2 linked regions of the Homo sapiens genome follow. The main gene of each other region encodes a partner of the protein of the gene in region 2 in a complex. Each region holds a gene or a part of one and is shown on either strand. Other genes may lie near its edges. A codon is read from its position in the direction of its gene.

Region 1 (3,500 bases), on a different chromosome or scaffold from region 2:
ACGTCATCTTAGCTCTCTTATCCTTTCATAGTCGTATCTATTCTCAATAGGTTAAATTTTGTGGTCAGCCCTAATTTCTCTCTGGAGCCTTAGATTTACATTAGCAACTGCTTGAACATACATGTTTTGTTGTTGTTTGGTTGGTTGGGTTGGTCGGTTGGTTGGTTGGTTAGCACCTGAAGCTCAAACAGAACTCTTTTTCTTGTTTACACTCAGATCTCTTCTCTTTCCCTTTTGATTGTGTCATCAGCCTCCCAGTTCTTCATTTTTGAACCTGGTTATCACCTATACTTACCTTTGTTCAGGACAATTCTATCACACATTAAAAAACAATCTATCATATTTGCTCTCCTGTCCCTGCTTTGCCATTTGTTTCTTAAGACTTAAAATCAGAATGAAGAATGTTCATTCATATGTGTTGTAGCTTTTAGGGTAATCTAGCTAGCTGCCTAGGATATATAGAGCAAATTGAGCTAGGCACTCAATGTAAGCTGTTTGGCTGAAGCATAGTTTAATTTAGCAGTTGCATTAGCTTCTGTGGGCCAACAAGATGCTGTTGATTGCTTTAAAATTTTGGAGAACGAAACTTATGATTTAATAAAATTTGATTTTTAAAAGTATGTGATTTCTAGTGATATAAAAGAGTTAAAATGTAAACTTAAAGACGATAGCTTTAGTACCTTTTTATCCCTAATAAAAATCTCATAATCTATGCTGTCATAGCACATTACACAACATTCCTATGGGCATTTGTCACATTGTATTACACTGGATTCTATAAGATATAAAAGGAGTATGAGGCTTGTGGGGTATGATATTTACTCTTGAAGAGTTCACATTCTAGTTTAGGAGATTCAGCACTGAAAAAGAATTTAAGACTCTATAAAGCAATATAACAAAAACTGAAATAGTTATTTCTAGGAGGAGGAAAAAGTTTTTAAGTGATAGAGAACCCAGCTAGATTTGATTAATTAGGAAAAGTTAGATGGAGTGCCAATTTTGAGCAAATGTGAAGGCAGGCAGAGATCTCAGCCGGTGAAGTAGAATGAAGAGGAAGTACTACAGTACCACAGGTGGCAGTTTGCATGTTAGGTCCTCACGACATGGACCTGGGGTGAGCGCCAGTGTGGAGGAGAGGATCTCAGAATGATGGCACTGCAGAGCAGGCTGGGTAGTAGAGGACCTTGAAAGTCTGGCAGATAATTTTGGATTATTACTACAAAAGAGGGGTTTAAACAGTTTTTTTCCAAATGAAATTTGAATGTTTTTCAGTTTTTTTATTGAAGCATTACATAGAGCATTACATTATATACATTAATGTATATTATAATATTATGTACATACATACATACGTACACACACACCCTCAGCATAAGTGCGTGTTTAAAGGTTAATGTACCAGTATCCACCACTCAGGTCAAGAAACCAAACAGCTTCAGGACCCCAGAAAGCCCCATCATGCTTCCTCTCAGTCTTAACCAATCAAACCCTCCCCACAACACACACATAACACAATCACAACCCATACACATAGTAATCACTGATTACTCACTGATAATCACTGAAGACCTTAATAAAAGAAAGAACACAAAGGAAATATACACCCACTTCACATGTTCCACAGACACTATTGGTGAGGTTTTTGTCCTCACCAGTTCATTTTTCAAACATTGTTGGATCATACAGTATGCGATCTTTTTGCATCTAGCTTCTTTTGCTCAACAGTACACTTAGGAGATTAATTCATGTTACTGAGTACTTTCATTCTCACTTCTTCTGTGTCTTCAGTGATACACAGTTCTGTCAAGTGTATATCTAGAAACTGAATTGCGGGGTCAGAGTGTGTGTGTGATTATCTTTAGATATTGCCAAACAATTTCTGGAGTGTTTGTACTCAGAGGAAGTCTTTTATAGTCAATAACCTGAAAGCTGGAGTGTGTCATTCACTTTTTTTGTAACCTCATACTCCTAAACATCATTGTAGACCTTGGTACAATTTTTGAATAAAGAAAAATGAGTGAAGAATGCAAATTAATGTATATATAGAAAAGGGAGGAAAAAATACTGATCAGCATTCAGCCAACATTTTTTGATCCACCATTGGGCCAGAACTGAAATAGCATGCCGTCGTCAAGCATCTGAGCTGGGGTGTAGAGGACAGAGGATAAGAGGATAAAAGATCTGGCATTTGAGGATTGAGGCAGGAACAAAGATCATGATGAACACGGAATGCCATGTAAAGGAAATTTTTTGTTTAAGGGATAACTTAGTCATTAAAGGTAATTAACATGGAGTGTTTTTCATTTAGAAGAAATAGTGTCTCCCATTCTAGAAGGGAAAGCACAGTTAAGGAGTCCATGAATGAAACTGTATGAAACTGACTTCAGTTTCATATGTATGAAACTGAATTCAGTATTTTAAGCAGTTATTTTAACTTTTTGCATTTATGTTTCTTTCCTTTTTCCATCTCAGGATCAAACACATATGAAGAGGCAGCTGCATATATTCAATGTCAGTTTGAAGACCTCAATAAAAGAAAGGACACAAAGGAAATATACACCCACTTCACATGTGCCACAGATACTAAGAATGTGCAGTTTGTTTTTGATGCTGTAACAGATGTCATCATAAAAAATAATCTAAAAGATTGTGGTCTCTTTTAAGTTTTGCAGTTCATGGTAAAATGCATTTTCAAACCAAATGAGTACTTATATATGGATCTCTGTAGACTAGAGTCTTGCAGCAACACAGAATGTAATATAAGGCAAATGCATCTGGGACTTGACCAAAGTTGTTCTGTTTTGTTTTTTTAACTGAAAGTAACAGAAGGACCTTTCTTAAATGTGACAGATGGTCCTGCAGTGTGAAACTGAAGGACAGTGTTAAAGCTGGGCTCTAGTATATTGATGATTTCTGCATAAGTGTAAATATGCAAATGTATGTATACATGTATTTATGACTTTAGTTTTCGACATTATTTTTAGGTTTTAAGAGTGGCAACTTAGGATTTTAGGGTGATGGCTTTGGAAATAACATAAATATACCTTGTACTGAATGACAGACTATTACTACGTTTGCCAGTTTTAAACAGCTTTATTTATGTTCATGTCCTGTAAATTTTTAAGTACAGTAATTAATATTAGGAAACATTACAGCCCTTATCTAGATTATATGTATACTTGTATTAATAAAAATGTTATTTGTACAAACATTGCACAGACTATTTTAATAACATGATTTGTTCTTTAAATTTTATGTGTTTTATTGAAATGTTCTTAAGATGAATACACCTGCCTTTGGATCAACTATTTAAACATTGTATGCATTTTGATTTTTCCTACTTTAAGAAAATAAAATAATTTAATTTTACATTAGATTCCACGTTAGATTTGGTTTGAAAAACTAAAATTTCAGATTTCTGAGGATATACTGTCTTAGACTTATTGTACACACTTAGTTTTTATTCACTTGTTTTCACTCTGAATTTTAATATTTGGCTG
Region 2 (3,500 bases):
AAGTGAGAACATGCAAATTAATGCAGGAACAGGAAGATAGGTTTGAAATGTACGTTCTTCCTTTTTCTGAGAAAAGAATTGTTTGTAAGGAACTCAGGTGGAGATCAAATTAACAATCATGATTTTATTAAAATCATGCCCCAAGCAACAAAAACTAACCGGCTCATGATCTAAGGGAAATACTTGATTCTTTGGGCTGAGAAATTTAGGGAAATAGTTAAAAAATTCGTTGTATTTAGAATTTAAATGTTACCTTTTCATTTTCTGCAATTGTGAAATGAAAATAAATTCCACTTAACTTACACAATTGCCAAAATAATCAAATCAAAACTTATTAAAAACACTTTGTAAATTAGAAGGAATTATTTTATTTCTTTTAATTAGGTAGCTATCACCTCTCTGGAGTTCTGTTCAGGTACTTTTTTATTTTTAAAAGCAAACAATTCAAGAAGCTCAAATTATCTGGACTTTACCTACTTTAAATGAAGTCAAGTAGAGGAGATGAGAAATAAGCCCTACCTAGGAATTACAGGAAGACTGGGTCCTGTTACTAAGCTGAAATCTTGGCTAGAAGAAAGAGCTTGGCATCTTTTGCGGAATGCCATTAATCATCTTTTAAGGGCTTCATGGTCACTCCTGCTATACCGAACCACAAGCGGCTGGGTCTTCAGTTACAAGGGTTTGGAATAGAGCCAACCCATGAGGCTTGCAGCTAAGCCTTTTACAGTGGAAACGAGCTGGACTGGTCTTCTGTGGGAAATGAATCCTACTAGAATGCCAGAAGGCATACTGAGCAATGAGCTAAAAACAACAAATCATCCTGAGTGAAGCTCTTCTCAGATGCAAAGCGCAGACTAAATAGAAAAACAGAATCCTCGTTAGGAAGGAGCAGACAGCTGTGCTAGGCTGAAGGCACCAGCAGCAGGAGAAATACTCTTGAGCTGAATGAAGTTCTAATGAGTGGCAAAGGAAACACAAACTTATAAGCACATATCTCAATTCTGGGATGGAAAAGGATCAGATTTGGAGGTAGGGTCACAAACTGGACTCTGAAGGCACAACCAGTCAATGAAACATAGGAGAGTTAAAATAGGGATCCTGGAACAGAGATTCTCGGTAACCAGAAGTTCCCAAAAGTGGGTCTGGATTGTGGCTTTTGGAGTTTCTCTTGAGGTGTGGAGCTACTATGTGTGATAATCCTGCATGAGCATATTGTTAACAGCCAGTGCATGGCACAATGCCTGGGAAATTGGAGGCTGTCAGTATACGGTAGTTGAACAAATGCAAGTTTAGCACAGATTGGTGAAGTGTCCTGGGGGAGGAGTGACTGAGCCAAGTAATTCTTTTTGTTGCTTCCAGACTTACAAGTCCAGAATTCTTAAAAATTATACCTCTGTTCTGAACCCAATAATTAAATTCTTAGTAGGTTCTTAGCTCATCTCAAAAGATGTTAAAGAATTTAATAACCAGTTTGAGGAGAAAACAAGAATAAAGATGAGTAGAAATCGGTAATCTTTCCAGGCTTAGGTTTGGTGACTGCCAGACATTGATAAAAGAACAATTAAATAAGTAATCTACAAATAGAATGTGGGGAATGGGCATGTAATAATGAAACCTGAATGTGAATAGATCTGAGCTCACTTTATTTTTCCTCTTACTGTATAAAGGAGGAAACCGAGCCCACAGAGTTTTAACTTTCACAAATCCTCACGGAAGAGGTACAAACATGAGGTTACAGTGTAATTCATCCAGACCTCTTCCTGCTGTGTTTATAAACATGAATGTGCTAAAACATGTGAAAATATAAAACGTGTTTACAATTTTACTGTGCACACATATATATAGACCTTCCCTGAGATTTTAAATGACTTTAAATTACTGTCCTTCCAGAGGAAGTTTGTCTCGCTCATATAACTTACCAAACCTCCAACCATTTTTCCAAAGATGGAAGTGGCTATCTTTTCTGTCCTCCCACCTATTTTCTCAGCTGTCTTCTCCTCTGTCTCTGTTCAGTTACAGAAACACACAGGAGCTTTTCTCAAAGGCAAGTGGCCCAACACTTCCTAGAAAAGATAGATGCCAATGAAAATGTTATCAAAAACTGATAAAATGAGAGATAAAGCAAAACCAAGGTTTTACAGGTCACCTGCCTAATTCTTTTTGAGTCATGATTTCTTTTAGATCCTATGTGGAGACCTGCTCTTTTCATCAATGTGTGTGTGCGCATGGGCGCATGTGAGGCCAAGACGGACAGGAAAGAGACAGCTCTACTGGGAATTCTGTTTATAGAGAAAGAAACATAATCCCATAAATATTGATGCCAGAGAAACAGCGCAGAGTTCAACTGTGCCTAAGATTAGATTGTTGCCAAGAATGCTGGAAAGTATAGGTGTGAGCAGTTTCAACTAAGCCTGCTGTTGATAAGGAGACAGCTGTTGGCATAAATAAATGATATTTGGAGTCCGTAAGTATATAACTGAAAGAATAGGGAGACAACAGCCAGCCCTCTCCAGAGGCATAATAGCACGTTCTAATGATTGTTCCCTGTAAACTGAAGGACAGGGAATGAATTCACTGAATGAATTCAAGGAAGTGCGGAGGGGGCGTCCCACCATGGCCAAGCCTTCCCACGGAAGCTGGTGCCCACACAGCTGCAGCTCAGGCATCACTGGCCCCAGCAGCCACAGCACAAGGTGTGATGGAAACATGTCATGCTCTAATGACAACAACAGCTCCTCATCTGTGGCAAGGACACAAGGATTCTGAGAATTTCTAAATAATCAGGACCATTCCGGCTTGGAAGGGAAGCGATGAAAATACCATGGGGTTTATGTTTACTAAAGGCGAAGTTCAGAGGGATTTATGATGACCCTGCACACACGCAAAGCAATCCCTGACATCCTTGCTGCTGTGGACCTTCCTTTGAGTCAGATAATTCAATTACTGTAAAAATGTACTTTATTGCTTCAAAGCTGGGATCCCTCCATTTCCAGAGTGATGGCCATCAGTTAACCCAAGTGCACTCAGAGAAGTCAAATTCTGACACAATCCAGCAAGTAACTATAAAAACTGATGGTAAGGTTGAAATACTAGGCACCACTCTGGGTACCTTACTTGCAAAGTACTCATTCAATTCTCCTAAGAACCTGTGAATTAAATACTATTTTCCTTGTATTCTTGATGACTAAACCAAAGTATAGAAAATCTGAGACAATTCCAAAGGGCATCCAGTTGATAAATGTCAAAGCTGGGAACAGGACCCTGGCTAGTACAGCTACAGAGCCCATTTTGACCATGTGCCTTGAGATTTCATTTTTTCCCACCTTTGACTAGTTGTCAAATATAGGATGTCCAGTTAAATTTGAATTTCAGATAAGACACAAATAATTTTAGACAACAAATAATGTTGCAAATATTGCACAAGGCATACTTAACTAAAAAAATATTGTTTATTTGAAATTCAAAATTTTGAGGGTACCTTGTATTTTTACTTCCTAAAT

Evidence for each region.
Region 1: the proteins of ADGRF1 (region 2) and GNAI1 are in contact, whole or in part, in a cryo-EM structure (PDB 7X2V), measured with the Homo sapiens proteins. Residues at the interface, in NP_722582.2 of Homo sapiens: Lys615, Gln618, Thr619, Arg623, Leu682, Arg685, Ile686, Val689, Phe690, His692, Val765, Lys768, Leu769, Arg771, Arg788, Ser792, Ile795, Leu796; in NP_002060.4 of Homo sapiens: Arg24, Glu28, Arg32, Leu194, Lys314 (codon at 2,538), Asp315 (codon at 2,541), Glu318 (codon at 2,550), Thr340 (codon at 2,616), Ile343 (codon at 2,625), Ile344 (codon at 2,628), Asn347 (codon at 2,637), Leu348 (codon at 2,640), Asp350 (codon at 2,646), Cys351 (codon at 2,649), Gly352 (codon at 2,652), Leu353 (codon at 2,655).

Annotation. Positions count from the first base shown.
Region 1 is NC_000007.14:80,214,831-80,218,330, forward strand, and holds part of GNAI1 (guanine nucleotide-binding protein G(i) subunit alpha-1), read left to right. Parts: intron 1-2,472; coding exon 2,473-2,663; 3' UTR 2,664-3,500. UniProt on the Homo sapiens protein: Guanine nucleotide-binding proteins (G proteins) function as transducers downstream of G protein-coupled receptors (GPCRs) in numerous signaling cascades.
Region 2 is NC_000006.12:47,032,333-47,035,832, reverse strand, and holds part of ADGRF1 (adhesion G-protein coupled receptor F1 isoform 1 precursor), read left to right. Parts: intron 1-3,500. UniProt on the Homo sapiens protein: Adhesion G-protein coupled receptor (aGPCR) for N-docosahexaenoylethanolamine (synaptamide), an omega-3 fatty acid lipid highly enriched in the brain.